Regions from separate parts of the Homo sapiens genome. Here all the other regions are reported to be linked to region 5. The links are microRNA targets in miRTarBase. Many come from high-throughput screens and were not tested one by one. Region 5 holds a microRNA gene; each other region holds the end of a gene's coding sequence.

What was found. Region 5 holds the annotated microRNA hsa-miR-629-3p (GUUCUCCCAACGUAAGCCCAGC, at 925-946, shown strand). A microRNA usually pairs through its seed, bases 2 to 8, with sites in the 3' UTR of a target mRNA and lowers its output. Matches are read on the target gene's strand: a 7mer-m8 pairs with bases 2 to 8, a 7mer-A1 pairs with bases 2 to 7 and ends in A, and an 8mer does both.
Region 1: the mRNA of BCL2L13 is a reported target of hsa-miR-629-3p. The part of its 3' UTR that is shown has no 7-base or 8-base seed match.
Region 2: miRTarBase lists TMEM50A as a target of hsa-miR-629-3p. Seed matches in the 3' UTR shown: 8mer at 1,169-1,176.
Region 3: the mRNA of MRPS27 is a reported target of hsa-miR-629-3p. Seed matches in the 3' UTR shown: 8mer at 915-922, 8mer at 1,456-1,463 and 7mer-A1 at 1,554-1,560.
Region 4: the mRNA of STMN1 is a reported target of hsa-miR-629-3p. Seed matches in the 3' UTR shown: 8mer at 564-571.
Region 6: miRTarBase lists TESMIN as a target of hsa-miR-629-3p. The part of its 3' UTR that is shown has no 7-base or 8-base seed match.
Region 7: miRTarBase lists MUC17 as a target of hsa-miR-629-3p. Seed matches in the 3' UTR shown: 7mer-A1 at 569-575.

What each region holds. Positions count from the first base shown.
Region 1 is chr22:17,727,243-17,730,337 of GRCh38, forward strand. BCL2L13 (BCL2 like 13) reads left to right here. Exons shown (of 7, transcript NM_015367.4): 7 at 1-3,095. The coding sequence ends at 292. Among named protein-coding and RNA genes, the nearest start is that of MIR3198-1, 35 kb to the right of the region's middle.
Region 2 is chr1:25,360,187-25,363,279 of GRCh38, reverse strand. It overlaps TMEM50A (transmembrane protein 50A), which reads right to left. Exons shown (of 7, transcript NM_014313.4): 7 at 919-2,620. The coding sequence ends at 2,575. RHCE (Rh blood group CcEe antigens) reads left to right here. Exons shown (of 10, transcript NM_020485.8): 10 at 727-1,031. The coding sequence ends at 753. Among named protein-coding and RNA genes, the nearest start is that of TMEM50A, 23 kb to the right of the region's middle.
Region 3 is chr5:72,218,417-72,221,502 of GRCh38, reverse strand. MRPS27 (mitochondrial ribosomal protein S27) reads left to right here. Exons shown (of 11, transcript NM_015084.3): 11 at 355-2,100. The coding sequence ends at 594. Among named protein-coding and RNA genes, the nearest start is that of MIR4803, 50 kb to the right of the region's middle.
Region 4 is chr1:25,898,316-25,901,410 of GRCh38, reverse strand. It overlaps STMN1 (stathmin 1), which reads left to right. Exons shown (of 5, transcript NM_005563.4): 5 at 324-1,295. The coding sequence ends at 395. Among named protein-coding and RNA genes, the nearest start is that of STMN1, 6.6 kb to the left of the region's middle.
Region 5 is chr15:70,077,238-70,080,332 of GRCh38, reverse strand. It overlaps MIR629 (microRNA 629), which reads left to right and starts at 865; the gene lies at 865-961. All of the region lies in intron 4 of TLE3 (TLE family member 3, transcriptional corepressor), which reads left to right. RefSeq lists enhancers at 801-1,407, 1,408-2,014.
Region 6 is chr11:68,705,739-68,708,833 of GRCh38, forward strand. It overlaps TESMIN (testis expressed metallothionein like protein), which reads right to left. Exons shown (of 10, transcript NM_004923.3): 10 at 1,702-2,762. The coding sequence ends at 2,570. Among named protein-coding and RNA genes, the nearest start is that of GAL, 23 kb to the left of the region's middle. RefSeq lists an enhancer at 981-1,739.
Region 7 is chr7:101,057,614-101,060,613 of GRCh38, forward strand. It overlaps MUC17 (mucin 17, cell surface associated), which reads left to right. Exons shown (of 13, transcript NM_001040105.2): 13 at 390-1,246. The coding sequence ends at 431. It also overlaps the pseudogene RN7SKP54. Among named protein-coding and RNA genes, the nearest start is that of TRIM56, 26 kb to the right of the region's middle.

The sequences.
Region 1 (3,095 bases), not on the chromosome of region 5:
AACTGAACCTACTGAAGTGGAGGAGGTGGTCCCCGCACTGGAACCCACAGAAACGCTGCTGAGTGAGAAGGAGATAAACGCAAGGGAAGAGAGCCTTGTGGAAGAGCTGTCCCCTGCCAGCGAGAAGAAGCCCGTGCCGCCGTCTGAGGGCAAGTCTAGACTGTCCCCCGCCGGTGAGATGAAGCCCATGCCGCTGTCTGAGGGCAAGTCTATACTGCTGTTTGGAGGGGCTGCTGCTGTTGCCATCCTGGCAGTGGCCATCGGGGTAGCCCTGGCTCTGAGAAAGAAATAGGAGGCTTTTCAGAAGAGAAAGACAGAAGGATGTAAGGTTGGAGTTGTATTGGCTGGAATTTGAACCTCCAGCAGCTGTCTGGACATTTGTGGAACACTCTGGGATAATTGGGGACTTCTGCTCAACATGGCAGTGGCATGTTAGGCATGTTAGGGCTTGAGGTGGGGCATTCACATTCATCTGACTGTAAATCCCAAGGGCCTCCGCTCATGCTAAATTGAGAATCTTAGGGGTAAAGCACCCCCTCCAGGACCGGGTTTCTCAGCCTTGGCACTAGTGCTGTTCTGACCATTCTCTGTGTTGGGGCTGTCCTGTGTGTGGTGGGCTCCACCCACTAGATGCCAGTGGCACCCCCTCCCAGAGATGACAAACGAAAATGTCTCTAGACATTGCCAAATGTCCCGTGTGAACATCCCCTATTGAGACCCACTGCTTTAGCGAGAGAGGGTTTACTTAGGAAGAATTGGGATAGAAATTCCCAGCTGAGAGAACTTAGCTGTGGGCTCCTCAGCTACTGACTTCTTAGCTCTTAATCCCCTTAGAATTTCATCTTTCTCGATGAGCAGGCTCTGCACCCACTCTTTTTTTGCCCCCCGCCCTCATCCTGGAGTGTGAGGGTGCTCGCCCGTACTCTCAGCTGCCTCTCAGGGACTGCACTGTTCCTCTTCACCCCCAGGTTCCTGCTAAGATCCCACGGGCGAGGGCTTGCTCTGGACTCAGTCTGTCAAGTCCCCGAAGCTTCCTGCAGCTCCACCTTGTAAAAATGCTGCCTTTGGGAATCTTCGAAATATGTACACAGAGAAAATCACATGAAGGAGACCTGGGGTCCCCACTTGTGAGTGCAACTGCAAGTAACTCTGGCTAGAGAGACACATGTGTCTTGTGTCAAGGCAGGAGGATAACCTGGATGACCTTCTGAGGTCTCTTCAGCCCTTTTCGCTAGTGGTCACCCACCACCATGGTTACTTGCCAGCAACATCTCTATTGCTGGATGGTCCCTGTCTATAACCTTGGGCTAGTATATTTTTTCCAATATGGGACCTTAGTCTTACTACTGATGAGTTCTATGGGTCTCTTGCTAGGGGGTAAGGATTTTTATTCTTGGGCTTATAGAGCCAGTTAGATCATAATTCTTATGAAATAGAGAGTGTCCTAAATATCACTGAAATAAAAAGTAGGAAAAAGAAGCTTGAATTTTAAGACTGAGGCTGCTCTGCAGATTCTAGTTTGGCTTTCAGAGTTCAAGAGTGGTGGCATCTTCACCTGAATTCTTCAATGCCAGGGTAATAAACCAAAATAGTCCTAATCAGTATATGCTAGTTGAGCATCGGCATAATTTTCTTTCCTCTGGCTGATCCCAGCCCTAAAGGAAGGGTAGACCCGTGTCTTTCCAGCCCTAAAGGAAGGGTAGACCCGTGTCTTTCCAGCCCTAAAGGAAGGGCAGACCCGTGTCTTTCCATGCCCGAGGGCCACGACGTCACTATGCAGGGCACACGTGGCTTGGTTTAAAAAGGTCATCTTAGATTTATCTTAGTAAATGTAATAAATTATTTTTTAGATCTTGAAATTTATAATAAAAATACTTTACCTACCCTGATCACCAAAACCTGATGTTTTAAATGTGCTTTCTTTTTGAAATTTATGTTTTCAAATAAAATCTCCCTAAAGCAATATTTAAAAATTGGTCAAAACAAGGTCTGGGAGTATGTTTGTGTGTCTTTCCAGCTTTATCCTGTAGCGTGTCTTTGTTCTGTGTTTTAGTGTCCCATTTAGGGAGTGATGTTTTAAGGGTTTTTGTGTACTTGGATTAAGTAATTAGAGGTGAGTGGGGGGAATGGGATTATTGAGGCAATGATTTTTTTCTTCATGGGCTCTGATAGTTGCATTGATTGTTCTGTATTCTAATTGCTATATTTGTGTTTGCATAGGTGAAGAGCAAACTGGTGCGTTATCTTGATTTTTAAAAAGTAATAAATCCTATGAGTTCCAGTATTAACACTTGCCAGTTCTGGATCCTCACACCCATTGGCTGAGCGCATTCAAGCACCAATCGAAGCCAGGTTCATCTCTGAGCTGCTGAAAGGAGGTGTGAGGCTTAGGAAATTGGAGCCTGTGTTGCCCACGAAAGGAAAGAATAAGGAAGAAATGTGGTATGGAAGCGGCTACTTGCTGCTTTATTTTCCCACCTGTTAGACATTCCTCCACAGTGATTTGGCCAGTTGTATTTCACGGTAATGGAACTAGATAGTGTTTTCCATTGGCTTTCTCTGGTAGCTCTTGGTCAGCTCCTGAGTTAACAGGATGTGGCAGCATCCCTGTTCTTCCTTCACGTCCTCACCCTCTGCCTCCAGCAGTGGAAGGGAACAGCCCTCATGAGGACTGCTTCCTACTGCAGCTCCTGCTTTTTGCTCATACATTTAAAAAACTATTTCTCAAGCTTCCCCTCCTTTTGGGGGGAGGAGCTGATAGTAGGAGGCCATTCCTTCCACCTCCAACTTATACCCTCTAAGTCTAAGGTGAAGGAAAGATTCAGAATAAATCCAACTTGTTTATAGAAAAGTTCTTGTTAGTCCTTAGACCTCATCTCAACTGCTCTGTTGAAGGTAATGATTTATTGGGGGGAAAAAACAACGCCAATTTATCCTCTCTGTATTAAAGTGATAATTCTGGGCCCACAGAAATCAGTCAGTACCTGCGGTGTGCCTTAAGGGGACTCTCATGATCATCATTCCCTTCTAGAGAACATTCTAGATGAAGAAATGCAACTGTTGACCTTCTGGTTCACCCATCTCCCCCTCGAGGC
Region 2 (3,093 bases), not on the chromosome of region 5:
TAAGAAGGCTCTTCGAACACTTGAAAGACCGGCATGTAGGCCGGGCGCAGTGACTCACGCCTGTAATCCCAGCAGTTTTGGAGGTCGAGGCGGGTGGATCACCTGAGTTTGGGAGTTTGATACCAGCCTGACCAACAAGGTGAAACCCCGTCTCTACTAAAAAATACAAACATTAGCTGGGCATGGTGGCGGGTGCCTGTAATCCCAGCTACTCCGGTGGTTGAGGCAGAATTGCTTGAACCCGGGAGGCAGAGGTTGCAGTGAGCTGAGATTGCATCACTGCACTCCAGCCTGAGACAAGAGCGAAACTCCATCTCAAACAAAACAAACAACCAACCAAACAAAACCAAAAAAAAAACTGGCATGTAGAAGAAAAATACTTTTTCTCTACACTTCTCCAAAGAATTTAACTAGGCCCAGGGGAGGTGCAGTATAAATTTCTAACAATCTCAACTGTCTGCCAAATGGAATGAGCTACTTCATATGGCAGTAGTGAGTCCTCTGTCTTTGGAGGCATTCAAATAAAAGCCAGATGGCCATTTATCAACAATCCATGTAAAACGTTAGATGAAATAAAACCTATATATCCAAGATCTCTTCCAATTCAGATTTTATGAAAGAATTTCTAAGGTCTTTGTAATGAGACATTTAGGCTGTTTCAAGAGATCAAGCCAAAATCAGTATGTGGGTTCATCTGCAATAAAAATGTTTGTTTTGCTTTTACAGTTTCCTCATTTGGCTGTTGGATTTTAAGCAAAAGCATCCAAGAAAAACAAGGCCTGTTCAAAAACAAGACAACTTCCTCTCACTGTTGCCTGCATTTGTACGTGAGAAACGCTCATGACAGCAAAGTCTCCTTATGTATAATGAAACAAGGTCAGAGACAGATTTGATATTAAAAAATTAAAGACTAAAAACTTAGTTTAAGAGTCAATTTAATAAGTTTAAAATAAATGTTTAGTTTCATTAGGATGATGCTATCAATATTTTCTTGGTTACAGACACATTATTAAAGTTTTGGGTTAATTTTATTGACAATTCTTAAGATTCTTTCTCATGCTTAATAAAGCATGCTACTCAGTTAACTCTTGTCTACATCAGCAAAGCAGATAATACAAAACAGGAAAATTACAAATCACTGATACTTAGTCCTTGTGGGAATCATGCTTTTCTCCCAGCAGTTTTACAAGGTGGCTGGCATTCCCTGAGCATATTCTGAATTGCACTGTGGGGAAAGAGGTTGTGCTCAGTTGTAGGGTGGGGGGATGCACTGCCTGAGGATTAAAAAACTAGTTCTGTGACCGTGAGGAAGTCGTTTAAATTTCCATGGTCTGTTCCCTCCTATGTGAAAAGAGAAGGTGGGCTTCAACCTCTAAGATCTTCTCCAGTTTTCACATTTTATGGACTTTTGTAGAAAAAACATCAGGAGTTCATGTGGGATGACAGCAAGTCATTTCTTTGAGGAGAGTCTTGATCACCAGGCAATATTCACAGTGTAGAGACTGTCAGATGACCATGGCTAGCATGGAAATGAGACCCACACATTTAAATCACCCAGCAAATATTCCGAAGGCTAATTGTAGCACATTTTATGAAAGACATTTCAAACTGTGGTCCTGAAGAGTGTATCCCATCTTGCAGAGGTGGGGAGCCTGGGGGGACAAGAGTTCTGAAGAGGAAGAGACAACAAGAGTTCCCAGTAGCTAATGTTTGTCATTCTAGTTGACCGTGCTGGTCTATTAGGCTAGTGGTTCAGTACACAGATGAAATGCAACATGGAACCCAGTTTATTATCAGAACAACTACAAAGAAATTGTCCCCTGTCTAAGACTGGAGTGTCAAGTCTCTGCCCTTTTTTCCTTTCCTTCAATGGTGGATGTGGAGTGACTGTGCATCCCACCAGAACCACGTGTCATGGCTGAGTCACATCTTCCTGCCCTTGGAATGAGAGGCACAGCGGAAGACCTTCCCATGGAAGGGACACAGGGAGCCTGGTGGCTGGACCATGGTGCTTCTCTCTTCCAACACGTCCACTCACCCCTTGGGAGACCCTCAAAAGCCAGTTACATTACATGTTCACAGAATTTTTGGTAAAAGTAAATACCAATTATAGTGAGGAAGAATTTTGACCACGGAATATTTTAAAAACTAAAAAATGTTTATATTTCATTTAACATTTGACACAGAAGAGACCACATTTGAATAAACACATTAAATCTTCAGAGCACTTTCATTGTGGTTTTGGACCTCAGATATGACAAATACTTACATTGACAAATCCATAATTTCTTTTGTAATTTCTTTTTATTTTTACAAATTATACCATGATAAAATTTGACAAAAATTATTCATGTGAAAGTTTCCTCTAACATTTTATAAGTTAATCAAGTGCATACCACAATAGATTTTTGGTTGTTGTTTAGGTGTTCTCGTGATTTTAGTATTACACAACTTTAAGCTGAGACTACACTCAGAAATAAGTTTAGAAAATGGCATTACAAAAGGTTGGGAGTGAGCAGTAAAAAAACAAACAAACCCATGCAGGGCTGTTGTGCTGTGGGAAATCAGATGTGTTCACTGCCATAAGTCTTCAGTGCGGCCAAACTTAAAAACCAGCCCTCTGTGAATAAAACAAGAAATATCACATGACTCCCTGAATTTGAGAAAAGAGTATGTGAGATTTCGAGAATGGTGTGAAACAAACAACGAAGAATAATTGATGAGTTGTAGAAGAAATTTTGGTACGAAATGTATCAAAACAGAAACTGATCATTCTAAGGTAGTGAATTCTTCCATTATGTTCAACTGTGCTATTAACCACCATATTCCCAACAACCTTAACTTTCAAGTACTGAATACACATGTGACTTTTAAAAAGTTACCAGTGTTTACTATGTAACCATTATATGTCTGATTTTTTTTTTTTTTTTTGAGACAGAGTCTTGCTCTGTCGCCCAGGCTGGAGTGCAGTGGCGTGATCTCGGCTCACTGCAAGCTCTGCCTCCCGGGTTCATGCCATTCTCCTGCCTCTGCCTCCTGAGTAGCTGGGACTACAGGCACCCGCCACCATACCCGGCTAATTTTTTGTATTTT
Region 3 (3,086 bases), not on the chromosome of region 5:
ACACAGGGAGACACAGCATATGGAGTTCCATTTACTGTTTTTGAGTGAAAGGGGAGAAATCACATGTGGTGCATCTTAGCAAAATTGCTGAGCTGAAAAAAATAACCACAGCTAACAGCACCTGAATGAAAGGCAGCATGACCATTTCCCAACAAAATGGTTTTTTTCTACCAGCAAAATGTGTGGTTATTTTGCAGGTGACTTCATTCTGGGCCACTAGAATGAGGACTAAACTACGAGTCAGCAAACTTTTGTTCAAATCTAAAGTCAGTCACTCAGGGCTAGTTTTTCCTCTTTGTATCTTTCTCTCACTTCTCTACCTTTCTTCTCATTTTTCCCATTTGTTTCCAACAGGCCTTACATTCTAAGCTTCAAGCTCTGGGCAAAATTGAGTCAGAAGGTCTTTTAAGTCTGACCACCCAGCTTGTCAAGGAAAAACTCTCCACCTGTGAAGCAGAGGACATCGCCACCTATGAGCAGAATCTGCAGCAGTGGCATCTAGACCTTGTACAGTTGATCCAGAGAGAACAGCAACAGAGGGAGCAAGCGAAGCAGGAGTACCAGGCTCAGAAAGCAGCAAAGGCATCTGCCTAATAGGGTCCCCCAGGGCCCCACCTGTCTCACAAGAACTTCACTCAACCCCGTGCCAGGACTCAGCAGTGGCCTGGACAACAGCCTCAGCTTCCTCTACCCATCTTCTTTTCTTAAAGCAGGCTATGTGCCCTACATGGCAAGGCACCATGACTGCCCATCGAGATGCCAAGAAGGGCTATGGAACTATGCAGGTGGCTAGTGGTCAGACTGAAGTCACCAGCTGAATACCTTAAGGAGGACTCTTGAGGCTCATAATGGAGTTCCTGGGGCACAGGGATTAGTTATGAGCATTAAAGTTCCTAAGACCCAGTGACAGTACTGGGAGAAACCAAGGCTGAAGAGTCAGGTTGAAGCACAGGCTTTTGTTTTTTGTTGTTTTTGTTTTTTGAGACAGAGTCTCATTCTGTCACCCAGGCTGGAGTGCAGTGGCGCAATCTTGGCTCACTGCAACCTCCGACTCCCAGGTTCAAGCAATTCTCCTGCCTCGGCCTCCTTTAGTAGGTGGGATTACAGGTGCATACCACCACACCTTTCTAATTTTTGCATTTTTAGTAGAGATGGGGTTTCACCATGTTGGTCAGGCTGGTCTCAACCTCCTGACCTCAAGTGATCTGCCCGCCTCAGCCTCCCAAAGTGCTGGGATGATAGGCGTGAGCCACCACACCCGGCCAAGCACAGGCTTTTGAATGGTCTCCCTCTCCCCAGCCCAGGTACATGAGGCCAAGGTGAACTGTGCATCCTGAGACCTTGTGTCCCTGAGTCTCCTTTCTGAGTGCAAGCTGCACTGTGAGCTGGCTGTGGGATACTCACACATTCCCACATTCTCCTTTCTGCCACATCTCGCCCTTCTGGACCTGCACTGGGAGAAATTCAGGACAGGAGTGAACTCAAGGCCATGAACTCACTGGATTTCCATTTTTAGGCACCCATAGGGATGTTTTTAGGATGTAAGTTTCTGAGGAGAAAGCTAGCTCTAGCATGAAGCTTTTTTGGATTGGCTTCTCCATCGTGTTGGGGTAACATTTTTTTTCCAATTTTTTTTTTCCCAAAACATCGTCTCAGCTCATTTATCAAGTAGGTAAAATGAGCCTTTTGTGTACACACAGAGGCACATGTGCATGCACACACAACTTGTGAACACACATTTCTGTTAAAGAAGTTAGAAAATGAGAGATGGGTTGGGGCTTGAAGTGCATCAGAGGTATGAATGTTGTAAAACTGTCAGGAGATGTAAAATTCCTTTCTGAAGTGTCTCTTCTGTGAAAGGGTTCAGAGCAGATTTTGCTTACTATGTAGTGTTGCCCTTAAGTACAGTGGTGTAATTTTATTCAAGATTGTGCTCTTCTATCAAAAGCCTCTGGAAATAAATGTTCCGGGATCATGTTAGTGTACTCTTTATCTTTGGGGAAAGGGAGGAGGGAGAGGGACTCATTATTGTTACTATGATTTTGAGGAGTGTACTTTAAACCCTCCCCCATTAAACTATGGGATTTATTGTAATAATGATAACTGCCACCACTAATATTTATTAAGGACTTAACTGTAGGCTGAAAACCCAAGCAGCCCTATGAGGGAGGTACCAGTGTCCCCATTTTATGAAACAAAGCAGCTCTCCTGCTGCTCCTCTCCCTGCCTGTGGCCTCCATATAGAACCGCAGTAGTCAGGATCCAACACAGGGCCCTTTAGACTAGCAAAGCTGCTGAATCTTACTTAGGTAGAGGGCCGTGACCAAAAGTCAGTTCCAACATTTTGGTTTACCAACAACAGGAGTTTTTCAGCCACTCTCTCATTACATTAAGAGGAACATTCAACACAAACAAAAGGGCAACTTTTGCCCAGTAAATTAATGACTGTCACAACATGAAGTATCTGGTTAAGGCTTTGGCTCATCGTTTTGCCTTCATTTTTCCTCCCTCTCCAGCCCCAATGTACTTTACTTCTCTTCTTCACCAAAAGAGACCACTTCTGCCACTGTACTGTGGTCCCACAGGAATTTCCATGTTCCCTCCTCCTCAGGATTCCTTCCACACTTGTGCCCCATTTCTCAGGACTCTTGGAGTCTTTCCCCTCCAAATATTCTGCCCTTTCCCCATGTCCTTATCTCCTGAGCTATAGGATACTCTCCTGCCTTCCTTCACAATTGGCTCTTCCCAATACAGTTGTCCTTTGTCCCTTTCCCTGATGTCATCTTCCATATTTCTTCCATGTGGATGGAGAAACTGCTCTTGGTGCCCTGGCCTCTGGAGGTTACCTCAACTGGATCATCTCCCAGTAACAAATTACCTTCTGCAGCTGACCTGCCATAGTCACAGCCAAACCTCCAGCCTCATCACGAATCCGAGATCTTAGATCCTGAAGTCCCCACTCTCCCAGGCTCGTCTCGTACCATGACTGCTGCTGAACCAACTTGCTCTGTAATTTCCTGCCTGCTAATCCTTAGCCTTTACCCCATCACCCAAACTCTTGGTCTCCAGAATCTGCTTCTCTTCCA
Region 4 (3,095 bases), not on the chromosome of region 5:
AAGGTGTTTGGTGTCTTTTTGTCATCCATTTTGGGGCTTAACATATTAAATGAAAGGTATATTTTAAGATGGAATATTCAGTAATTCCCAGCATAATTGCACAGTCCTTGGAAGTCCAGTAGGCAGCTTGTTAGGTTCTACAAGGGACCCAGGAGATTTGATGATGATGTCTCAGAACTTAAATTGTGTGGTTCCCACAGGCTGTAATATATGCACTGAGGTTGTGTTGGGCCTCTTTGAGGTGGGGGCTGGGGGTCGTGACTTGACAGGCTTTTTTTTTTTTTTTTTTTTTTGACTGATGACACCTTACCCTTCCTTTACAGGATAAGCACATTGAAGAAGTGCGGAAGAACAAAGAATCCAAAGACCCTGCTGACGAGACTGAAGCTGACTAATTTGTTCTGAGAACTGACTTTCTCCCCATCCCCTTCCTAAATATCCAAAGACTGTACTGGCCAGTGTCATTTTATTTTTTCCCTCCTGACAAATATTTTAGAAGCTAATGTAGGACTGTATAGGTAGATCCAGATCCAGACTGTAAGATGTTGTTTTAGGGGCTAAAGGGGAGAAACTGAAAGTGTTTTACTCTTTTTCTAAAGTGTTGGTCTTTCTAATGTAGCTATTTTTCTTGTTGCATCTTTTCTACTTCAGTACACTTGGTGTACTGGGTTAATGGCTAGTACTGTATTGGCTCTGTGAAAACATATTTGTGAAAAGAGTATGTAGTGGCTTCTTTTGAACTGTTAGATGCTGAATATCTGTTCACTTTTCAATCCCAATTCTGTCCCAATCTTACCAGATGCTACTGGACTTGAATGGTTAATAAAACTGCACAGTGCTGTTGGTGGCAGTGACTTCTTTTGAGTTAGGTTAATAAATCAAGCCATAGAGCCCCTCCTGGTTGATACTTGTTCCAGATGGGGCCTTTGGGGCTGGTAGAAATACCCAACGCACAAATGACCGCACGTTCTCTGCCCCGTTTCTTGCCCCAGTGTGGTTTGCATTGTCTCCTTCCACAATGACTGCTTTGTTTGGATGCCTCAGCCCAGGTCAGCTGTTACTTTCTTTCAGATGTTTATTTGCAAACAACCATTTTTTGTTCTGTGTCCCTTTTAAAAGGCAGATTAAAAGCACAAGCGTGTTTCTAGAGAACAGTTGAGAGAGAATCTCAAGATTCTACTTGGTGGTTTGCTTGCTCTACGTTACAGGTGGGGCATGTCCTCATCCTTTCCTGCCATAAAAGCTATGACACGAGAATCAGAATATTAATAAAACTTTATGTACTGCTGTAGCAACTCCTGTGAAATGACTAAAGGGAACCTTAATTATTTCTAAAGTAGCATTTGACTCGGGTGGTTAAGGTTGGCAGATACGTCATCTTGTATCCAGAGGCTGTAATAGTCCCCATTGTCAGTGCTTTGCCTCTCAATTCAGGGAACGCCTTTGGCAGCTTTCCTGTGCTATTTGAGAAATAGCCTAATTATACATATTTTGTGCCTCTCAGACATCTGTATAAAAGCTCTTGGAAGCCAAGCACTTATAGCAAAAGATGATTGCTAATACTGCGGTGGGGTCCATGTGTTGCTAACGCATGTGCCTCTGCTGCTTGGGCTGTATCTTGAGATTGGGGTTTTACCAAACTTATTCATGAGAACAATAACAGCCTACCTCAACTTACCTCCTAAGATTGTTAGGATTAAATGGGTTTGTGGCAAGAGAGCACACTTAGAACATAGATATTTAGCATTCCGTATAAATCACGATTACTGTTTTCAACCAGAGGCTAATGAGTGATCTAAGTTTATACTCTTGAGTTGGAAATTATGCAGTTTTTATATTCCTTAAATTGACTTTTAAATTTACTTAAATGATCAATCAGAGGAATTCTGAACAAAGCTTGGTTTAAGGAGTTACGCCCATGTAGGGCAAATAGGAGCAAGTGCAAGTATAGTTGAATACAACAATAGGTTCTGAGCAATATCTAAACCAAGAGGACAGGATGAGGCTTGTGTGCAGTGGTGCAGCACAGTTCATCTTGGCTCCTGTCTCTGGCACATAGCAGGTGCTCTGGGATCTTTAAAATACCAGTTCTGAATAGATGGGAATATAAAGAGGGCCTGAGGGTAGAAACTTGGCATAATGATACGAGGTGTCCTACAAGTGGCAGTGAGCTTTTGTTCATCTAAGACATTTAGGGAGGGAAACTGGCCTCAGGAGAAAGCAAGGGAAGGATCAACAGGCCTGAAAGGATGCCTCATCAGTTACCACCCATCCCATGGTGGCCCTGACTTCCTATCAGAGGGCGATCCTGAGCCCCTGCCTTGTGACAGGCTTAAGTCACAGGAAACTGAAGGGGATGCATCTTACCACAGAAATAGAAGCTCTGGCTTTTCTATTTCACCTTGACCTTTGGAGAAGCACTTAGTCCTGGGCCCCCATTTTCTCCTGGATAAAATGAGATGGTTGGGGGAGATCAGTTAAGTAACTTTCACTCCCCCATTCTTTGCATCTGGCTTGGAGTGAAGAGGAGGAGCGGTGGCACCTACGAGCTTCTGGGGAAGTGTCTCTGGGTATGCATTCCCGGGCCCGGCATTCTCTGCCATCACGGGAGTCTGCGTCTGTCCCAGTGGGGCCAGCCTCTCCCAGCAGTACTTCCAATAGATTGGCCTAATAAGGCCAGAGTGGTTTGACAAGCAGTTGGGGCTGTCACCAAGGAGCAGACTCCATTCCTTTTGTCTTGAATGGAAAATGAGGCTTGTCCCTTCCTGAGGATTTTGTACTTGGGCCTTATGGTTGACTGGGCTCAGTGGAGAGAGGTTTGAAGGACGTGAAGGAGGCCCTTAAATTAACATTTGACAAGCACCTAGATTGTGCTCCACACTGGCCTTTGCGCTAGGGATGGAGAAAAGATGGGGTGGGACCAGCATATCACGTGCCCATGTGAGGGGAAGGAGAGCTGTAGAATGCTTACTTACCTGAGGGTGAGGCTCTCGACCACATACTTGTACTCACCAGGGTGCTTTAGTGCTTTGGTGAAAGGAGTGACCACAGAGGGCTTTGTGGTCTGGGAAGCTTTGAGAGGAGAAAGGACATGA
Region 5 (3,095 bases):
TTCCAAAGTGCTTTCCAAAGGGAGCCATCTTCCCACCTCCCACCACCTCTCAGATTCGCTTCTGAAGACCTGGCTCAAAAGCAGTGGCTTTGTGGGACCGAGATGGAGGGAAGGATGGAGGTCGGCCTCTGGAAACTACAGCCGCCTTATCGATAACGGATTGCGCCAAGTTGCCAAAAGGAGTTTTCCAACATACGATCGAGTTCCAGTTTGTGATTTGTGACCTGTCCCAATTGTTGAAGTCACACTTGATTTTTTTTTTTTTTTTTCCTTTTTTGGAACTGATGTTTAGAGCTTGTTTGAGTTGGATCCAATGCTGTTTTAACAGCTGTTCTAATCAGAAGTGCTGTCAATTATTAACCTTAATGGTGGTTTTTCTTTCAAAAATATTTCTCTAAGCTCTCTTGAAATGTCAAAATTTGGCTTCTTGGTAGGAAGTCATTTAGTGAAATCACTTAATGGCTGGGCATCAGTTTCCCCATCTGAAAAGTGGAGATGTTGACAAGCGCCTTCTCCGCGGGGTTATTGTGGATGCACACATGGCGAGTTGGGTGGGTGATATCAGCGGTCATTACTGTTGTTAGGAGGGCTTCTGTTAAGCCAGCTTTCCATTTCCAGGAACTTCCCCTCCCCCAAGCGCCACCCTCCAAAAAATAAACATTTCTTTAAAATGTTGAGCGAACAGCTTTCCTGTTCATGCTTTGACTCTGCAGAGTGCACGCAGCCCATTCTCAGGGTTGGGCAGCCTTTGTAGAGATGGGGGAGGCCCAATCCCTGCTTCCACTTTGTGGGGAGACCCCAAGAGGGTACTAGCAGATGATGGCACAGTGACAGCTGGGAGGGATGGGATGTGCTTGCTTCATGTCCCTTTCCCAGGGGAGGGGCTGGGTTTACGTTGGGAGAACTTTTACGGTGAACCAGGAGGTTCTCCCAACGTAAGCCCAGCCCCTCCCCTCTGCCTGCCTCAACCCTACACAGTCCTGTCTGGTGACGTGCCAAAGTCCTTCCTGCCTTGCAGAGAGGCCTCTCTTCGTCGAACATGGGCCTCAGGAAAGACAGCCTGAATGCCACTACCCCAGGCTTGTGGAAGGTTCTGCATCTGTGTGGCATTGTTGCGATAGCCCTCAGTTGATGCTTGTTTGTGGTGTTGGGAGGCAGGAACTACTTTAGGAGGGTGGAGGGGTGAGAATGAGAGAGGACTTGCCCTGAGCCACCCAGCTGTGGTCACCTGATGGCCCGGATGGCTACATAAATCCTGGGAGATCCGTTGTCCTCATAACCAGAGTGAGCTGGGCTCCAGACCAGCCCTATGGGAAGATCCTGTCTGTGGGAAGCCTTTGGCCACGTGTTTGCTGAAGGGTGTGGGGAAGGGCAAGGTCAGCTACGTTTCTTTTTTGTCAACTCCCGAGACCCTGACCCTTGGCCTGTTTACCAGTGGAAGGAGGCCATAGCCAGAACCCTTTTATAATCACCCTGCCTCCCTGCTCTCCCAGAGACTGTGAGAGTTAATAGTTGCTGAGGAGGCCAGAATGACTGGGGATGTTCTGACCTTGCCCCTGCCTTCCTGGCTGTGGGGAGGAGTAGTGGCCAGGGACCCATCTAGGTGGCTTGCGATTGGCCTGGCTTGGAGGTGCCACCCCACCCCGTTGGTGAAGGGCTTGGGCCACTGGCCACCAAGTGTATGTCAACACTCCATCCACCACGGCCCCTCCCACAGATGCTGCCCATGCTGGGGCAGGCCCAGATCCACAGCAAGGGGTCACTGCAATATGAAGTCTCAATAAATGCAGAGATGCCAGTGATACTATTCTTTGGGCCAAACATTTACGGAGCAGCTACTGTGTGCCAGACACTGCTCTATTGTTGTTTAAGATAACAGGCCTTGGACCTGTGAGCTTCCTAAACAGTAAGGTTGGTTTTTTTTGTTTATTTTTGTTTGCTTTTTGTTTTTTACATATCTTTCTATTCTTATTTGGTGCATGAACTCAAAGGTGAGAGAACTTGTTACTCTGCCGGTTTGGAGTGAGCTGCAGCCTATGCTTGTTTCTAGAACTCCTGCCCTATCCAACCCGGACTTTTTTGCTTCATTCCCCATTCCTACTATCAGTTGATTTAGGCGAGGAAAAAATAAGCAGAGTGAGGAAGGACCCTGTTTGGGAGAGCTCTTCCCACTTAACTAGATTAACAATTTATATAATGATTATTTAGTAATCCTCCTGGGTTCCTTAGAGTATGAATGACGGGTGTCTAGTGGGTGGAGAGGCCAGGGATGCTTTTAAAAGCCCTGCAGTGCACAGAACGGGCTCCACACAGCAGTGAATTATCTGACCTCAGATGTCAATAGCATGGTGTTTGAGAAACCCTGATGTATGGTGTCCTGGCTAGAGTGCCCCACACATGTGTCAATGTGGAGTCCCAGTGGGTCTGAGCTGGGCAGTTTGGAAGTGGGGGCCATTGTTGACACAGTTGGCCTGGGATATGAGCGACAGTCCTTTATAACAGGAATTGTCTCTCCCCAAATGCCAACAGTGGTGCTGGCTGGGAAACACTGACTCTGTTCCTGAGGAGCTAGAGTGTTCTAGGCAGAAAGCTGACAGCAGTGATTCCTGATCCTCTCCCTGCCAGGAACCCCCACTGTAGCGGACAGGCTCCGTAGGTTGGCGAGCCCTGCCACCGTGGCTGGCAGCCCAGGACACAGGCCTGCAAAAACCCATAAGGCTCTTTAGTTGATGGCCTGCCTTTCCACAAACCAGAGGCGTCCTCTTTAGTGGCCAAGGGTGGAGGGGGTGGAGGGTGTTAGCCCAAGGAATTCTCCCGAGGTCCAGGGTCTATTTATGCGCCTTCAGATTGTTTTTATTTTAAGTGCACAAGGATTTCTCATCCAGAATCATTTGACATGCAGATGATCACAGATTTTTAAAGGCTGTTGTCATGGTTTTGTCTCTGAAAGATTGCTATGTGCTGATGAAAGCTTTGAAGCCAGCTTTGGGACCTCAGTCCTGGCGGGCTCAGGATTCAGAATGAGATAAGAAAAGCAATTCTGAGAGTCGTCTGTCAGTGGTTCTAGGCCTTTCTATCTGGACTCAGTTAACCCG
Region 6 (3,095 bases), not on the chromosome of region 5:
AAGGCTGGGCGCGGTGGCTCACGCCTGTAATCCCAGCTCTTTGGGAGGCCCAGGGGGGCGGATCACCTGAGATCAGGAGTTCAAGACCAGCCTGGCCAACATGGTGAAACCCCACCTCTACTAAAAATACAAAAATTAGCCGGGCGTGGTGGTGCGCGCCTGTAATCTCAGCTACTCAGGAGGCTGAGGCAGGAGAATCACTTGAACCCAGAAGGCGGAGGTTGCAGTGAGCCGAGATCGCGCCATTGCACTTCAGCCTGGGCAACAGAGTGAGACTCCGTCTCAAAAAAAAAAAAAAAAAAAAAAAGATATGGTTAAATTTGCACAGCTACACTCTCAAATAAGAACATGATATGTTAATTTGTATATCGTTTTAAAATAGCACTGGCTCTCCGCCAAACACATAAGAGATGGGATTTTCTAGCTTTGTAGTCATCTTCTGTACTGTCTCTGGTCAGCATAGTGGCTTTATGCACGTCTGTATCTCGGCTTTCACTTCTCAGACGGGATTCCCTGCAAGTGGCACCTACTCAGTGAATTCTTCTCTGCCGGAAGACCCTGCAGGGCTCGTGCCTGCCCAGGTTGGCTCTTCCCTCACCTCCAGGCGTTAGCTCAGTACACCTGGCCACAGTCAGAGCATCCTTGGCCAGCGCAGGCTCCTGTGCAAAGTGGGGGGCCTGTATCCCCAGCCCCACACTGAGTTCCCTGCTCACACTTCCTCTGGGCTCCGCGGGTGGGCCACACCTGGTTCAGGATCTCCCTAGGCAGCCGTTGCCTCAGGAGAATGCTGGAGGACATTGTTCCCTTTTCCTCCCTCCACTCGGTGCCCCAGGGCTGTGCTGAGGCGCCCGAACCCTTAAGGTGTGGCTGGTGCCAACTGAGACCTGCTGTGAGTACAAGACACCCTGCATTTCAAATATTGGGTACACATAAAGGAATGTGAAATCTCAATCATTTTCATTCTGATTACACATTGAAACGATAGTATTTTGGATACATTGGGATAAATAAAAGATTATTAAAACTAATTTTACCTGCTCCTTTTCAAAGTTTTACATGTAGCTACTAGAAACTTTAACAGTACTCATGTGGCTGGCAGATCTTGCTGTTGGCAGTGTTGCCGAGAGGGACAGCAGGATGGAGGCAGCCCCCCCAGAGGCAGCTCCCAAAGTCCCCATTTCCAGGTCACCTTCCAGCTCCCAAGGGTGAAGGAGGCCAGGTGGCTCCCCCAGCAGTGCGCCTCCCTGTTCGCCGCGATGCTGACAGGACTGAAAGCACACACAGCAAGTGGGGTGTACGGCTGGCTGAGGGTTCCACGTCTCACAATGCATGTCTTTACCTCTGGTTTTCTGCCACAGACTCTGGATCCCAGGGGTCCAAAGGGAATTGCAAAGGGGAAGAATTCAGTCTTCCTTTTCTCCTCTGTGGCTTCCTGTGGCTGTGTTTGCAACTAGACTGTTCCAGACAGCTCCACAAAAGACAGCTTCCTCCCTGGTTGCTTGCTCACTTATGTGCCCAGTGCCTGGGCCCGGCAGCCACACTTCTGTCTCTGCTGCATTTGTACTTGAGTTTCCTGAACACCCTCTAAGTGGCCAACACTAGTAATGAATGCAGAAACATGAAAGAATATTCTCTCAATACATTTCAGGGTGGGTACTCATCAGATGAACACATTTTCAGTTACTAAGTTAATGACAACAATTGAAGACATTGGAAATTTTTATTCATCTTTGCTTTACAACAGAACCAAAAGCGTCAACTTAAGAATTCATTTTACCTGCTGGTTTCCACAAGCTAGTTATGTGAACCATGTTTTACAAACAATAATAATATTACAACAATAATTATGGAGAAGTTAATTGGATAATAGAGCTTTTCCACAATTCAAGTAGAAACACAGAAGAAACTGGATAATTTTAAGTCCTCTAACTCAAGACATGCTGGTGCAAGCCTGGCCTGCGAGGCCCCATTGCCTGCGTCTCCCGGGGGCCTTAGGAAAGACTGACAGTTCGCGTGCCTCTGGGGAAATATCTACGCTACAGAAAATCTTTAGGTGTTCAGTAGTTCTCTAGAGATTTTAAGTGGTATCACAACAGCCCATCCGGAGAACTTATTTCTAAATAATTTGAAAAACAAACAAGAAACCATTAGGGTTTTCATGCAGAGCAGCCTCCAGAGCAACATTCTCTGAGAGGAAGAGTCGACCAGAGTGAGCTCTCCGCAGGGCCTGCTCTGCCCTCCCCTGCCCCGCTCTGCCCTTCGCAGGGCCTGCTGTGCCCTCCCCTGCCCTGCTCTGCCCTCCGCCGCCCTGCAGACACTCTCCCAGGACTATGGGAACCCAAGCTCTCTCCTCTGGGCCAGACAAACAATGCTCAGGCCATGCACCTCCTCAGAAAAGGGGGCATGGGTTGCCACATCTTCAGAGAGCTCTGAGTAAACTCCCTGGGCCCAGGGATGCAGGGGAGCCTGGTTGTTGCTGCAGAGCCAGCCTCATGTTCCCCTAAACATCCTTTCTAAACTAGAGATTTCTAGACTAAGACAAAATCAACATGCATTCACACTTTATACTCTACTCCATTTTCAATCCCTTAGATTTAAACTCAGTGTGGAGAATCTGTGATAAGCACCTTCCAAATTCCTCCAGGATCATCTGCTCTGCCAGGCACTTGGAGCAGTGTTCTTTCTCGGCCTCTTCTCCCTGAGCAAGCAGGCAGGCGCATGTGGCCTCCACCACCTCCCAGGAGATGCATGAGGAAGGCCGCCTGTCAGAAACAGAGCAGTTAAAGGCCGCTCAACAGTGCACCATTTCTACCTACAGTACTATTTATATTCAACAGAACATTGCTTGTCCATGCTATTTTAAAGAACATCATCCACTAAAATCTAACGTTGTCTTCCTCATACTGGAAACTATTAGGCTGGGCACAGTGGTCTGTAATCCCAGCACCTTGGGAGGCCAAGGCAGGAGGATGGTCTGAAGCCAGGAGTTTGAGACCAGCCTGGGCAACAAAGTGAGACCCTTTTTTTTTTTTTGATACTGAGTCCTGCTCTGTTGCCAGGCTGGAGTGCAATGGCACGATCTCGGCTCACTGCAA
Region 7 (3,000 bases), not on the chromosome of region 5:
TCACACCTGTAATCCCGGCACTTGGGGAGGTCGAAGTGGATGGATTGCTTGAGCCCAGGAGTTTGAGATCACCCTGGGCAACATAGTGAAACCTCATCTCTACAAAAAATTTAAAAATTATTCAGGTGTGGTTGTGTGCACATGTAGTCCTAGCTACTTGGGAGGCTGAGGTGGGAGGATTGCTTGAGGCCAGAAGTTACAGGCCATGGTGAGCCGTGATTGTGCCACTGCACTCCAGCCTGGATGGCAGAGTAAGACCCTGTCTCAAAAAAATAATAAAAAATAAAAATAATTAAACAGAACACTTCCTATCCCAATCCTCCTTATGCTTCCAGAATCCCAAATTCCTCATGGGCTGAGCCCTCACTTGGTTTTATCTCTCTTTTCAGATCCGAATTCAGAGGCCTCAGGTAATGACGACATCATTTTAAGGCATGGAGCTGAGAAGTCTGGGAGTGAGGAGATCCCAGTCCGGCTAAGCTTGGTGGAGCATTTTCCCATTGAGAGCCTTCCATGGGAACTCAATGTTCCCATTGTAAGTACAGGAAACAAGCCCTGTACTTACCAAGGAGAAAGAGGAGAGACAGCAGTGCTGGGAGATTCTCAAATAGAAACCCGTGGACGCTCCAATGGGCTTGTCATGATATCAGGCTAGGCTTTCCTGCTCATTTTTCAAAGACGCTCCAGATTTGAGGGTACTCTGACTGCAACATCTTTCACCCCATTGATCGCCAGGATTGATTTGGTTGATCTGGCTGAGCAGGCGGGTGTCCCCGTCCTCCCTCACTGCCCCATATGTGTCCCTCCTAAAGCTGCATGCTCAGTTGAAGAGGACGAGAGGACGACCTTCTCTGATAGAGGAGGACCACGCTTCAGTCAAAGGCATACAAGTATCTATCTGGACTTCCCTGCTAGCACTTCCAAACAAGCTCAGAGATGTTCCTCCCCTCATCTGCCCGGGTTCAGTACCATGGACAGCGCCCTCGACCCGCTGTTTACAACCATGACCCCTTGGACACTGGACTGCATGCACTTTACATATCACAAAATGCTCTCATAAGAATTATTGCATACCATCTTCATGAAAAACACCTGTATTTAAATATAGAGCATTTACCTTTTGGTATATAAGATTGTGGGTATTTTTTAAGTTCTTATTGTTATGAGTTCTGATTTTTTCCTTAGTAAATATTATAATATATATTTGTAGTAACTAAAAATAATAAAGCAATTTTATTACAATTTTCATGGTTCCCAGATCTTTCCTCCTGTTTCCCATAGCTCCTGTTTCTAACCTCCCAGACTCTCTCTCTCTCCTCCAGAACATAAAATCGGATGCTTTTGGGGTTCAAGACAACAAGAGAGAGATTTGCAGTGGAAAGAGGACCATTCCTTGAACTCCACTGACACCATTTGCTGGTGTCCAAGAGGCAAGGCAGACAGACAGACAGACACACACACACATATACACATACACACAGAGGGGGGGGGGGGAGAGAGAGAGAGAGAGAGAGAGAGAGAGAGAGAGAGAGAGAGACTCACTTCCTACCAAAGAAAACCAAATTTTGCAAGCTCTCCTTCTGAAAACGGGCTTTTATTTCTTTCCATACATCTAAAGAGATAGAGACCTGGGTTCTATTTCAAGCTTTCTCGTGAATTCCTTGGGTTAAATCTGGGAAAAATCTATTTGGACTCAGTCTTGCCTTCTGCCGAATAAGGACTAGGTTATTTCTAAAGCCTCTTTCATCGCTGTCCTTCTTAATATTCCTAGGACGCTTTTTAATAATTATTGTTATTCCAGCCATGCCGCTCAGGATTCATTGTATTCTTGAAAGTCTGTCCCACCCGCCACCCGCTTCAAAGCCTAACCTGAGACAGAACCTGGACTCTGCTTCCCCCTACTGGACACTCTGAGCACCTGCAGGCACCATGCCGTTTCTCAGCGGTCCCCTTCTGGCCTCTCCTGTGACAAAAATATTCCGTTACACTTGATCATTTCCATATTTGCCATCAAAATTCTGTTTCTTTTCTTTTCCTTTTTTTGAAACAAAGTCTCACTCTTTCGCAAAGGCCAAAGCACAGTGGTGTGATCACTGCTCACTGCAACCTTGAGCTCCTGGGCTCAAGAATTCCTCCAGCCTCAGCCTCCCAAGTAACTGAGACCACAGATGCCGGCCACCACGCCCGGCTAATTTTTAATTTTTTCGTAGAGACGGGGTTTCGCTGTATTGTCCAGGCTGGTCTTGAATTCCTAGGCTCAAACGATCCAACCACTTCTGTCTCCCAAAATGCTGGGATTCCAGGCATGAGCCACTATGCCCGGCCTTTTTTTTTTTTTTTAATTTTGAAAATTTGCAAATCTACAGGGAAGTTAAAACAATAAAGTTAAAAAAGTGAACCCTACCTGGGCGTGGTGGCTCACGCCTGTAATCCCAGCACTTTGGGAGGCCGAGGCAGGCGGATCACCTGAGGTCAGGAGTTCAAGACCAGCCTGGCCAACATGGTAAAACCCTGACTCTATTAAAAATACAAAAACTAGCCGGGAATGGTGGCGCATGCCTGTAATCCCACTTACTTAGGAGGCTGAGGCAGGAGAATGGCTTGAACCTGGGAGGCGGAGGTTGCAGTGAGCGGAGATCGTACCACTGCATTCCAGCCTGGGTGACAGAGAGAGTCTGTCTTAAAAAAAAAAAAAAATTACACATATATATGTATATATAACAGTGAACCCCATATAACCTTCACCTGGAGTTATCAGTTGTTAACGTTGTGTCCTATTTGCTCTAAAGTGGTATGTATTTTTTCGAATTAAGCAAAATTGGAAATTAAAAATTAGAAAAGTTACAAATAAAAAATTACCACGAACCTGACCTTTTTTTTTTTAATTTTAGACTCAAGGGGTACATGTGCAGGTTTGTTTCAAAGGTATATTGTGTGGTGCTGAGGCTTAGAGTATGAATAAATCTGTCACACAGGTAGTGAGCATAGTACCCAATAGGT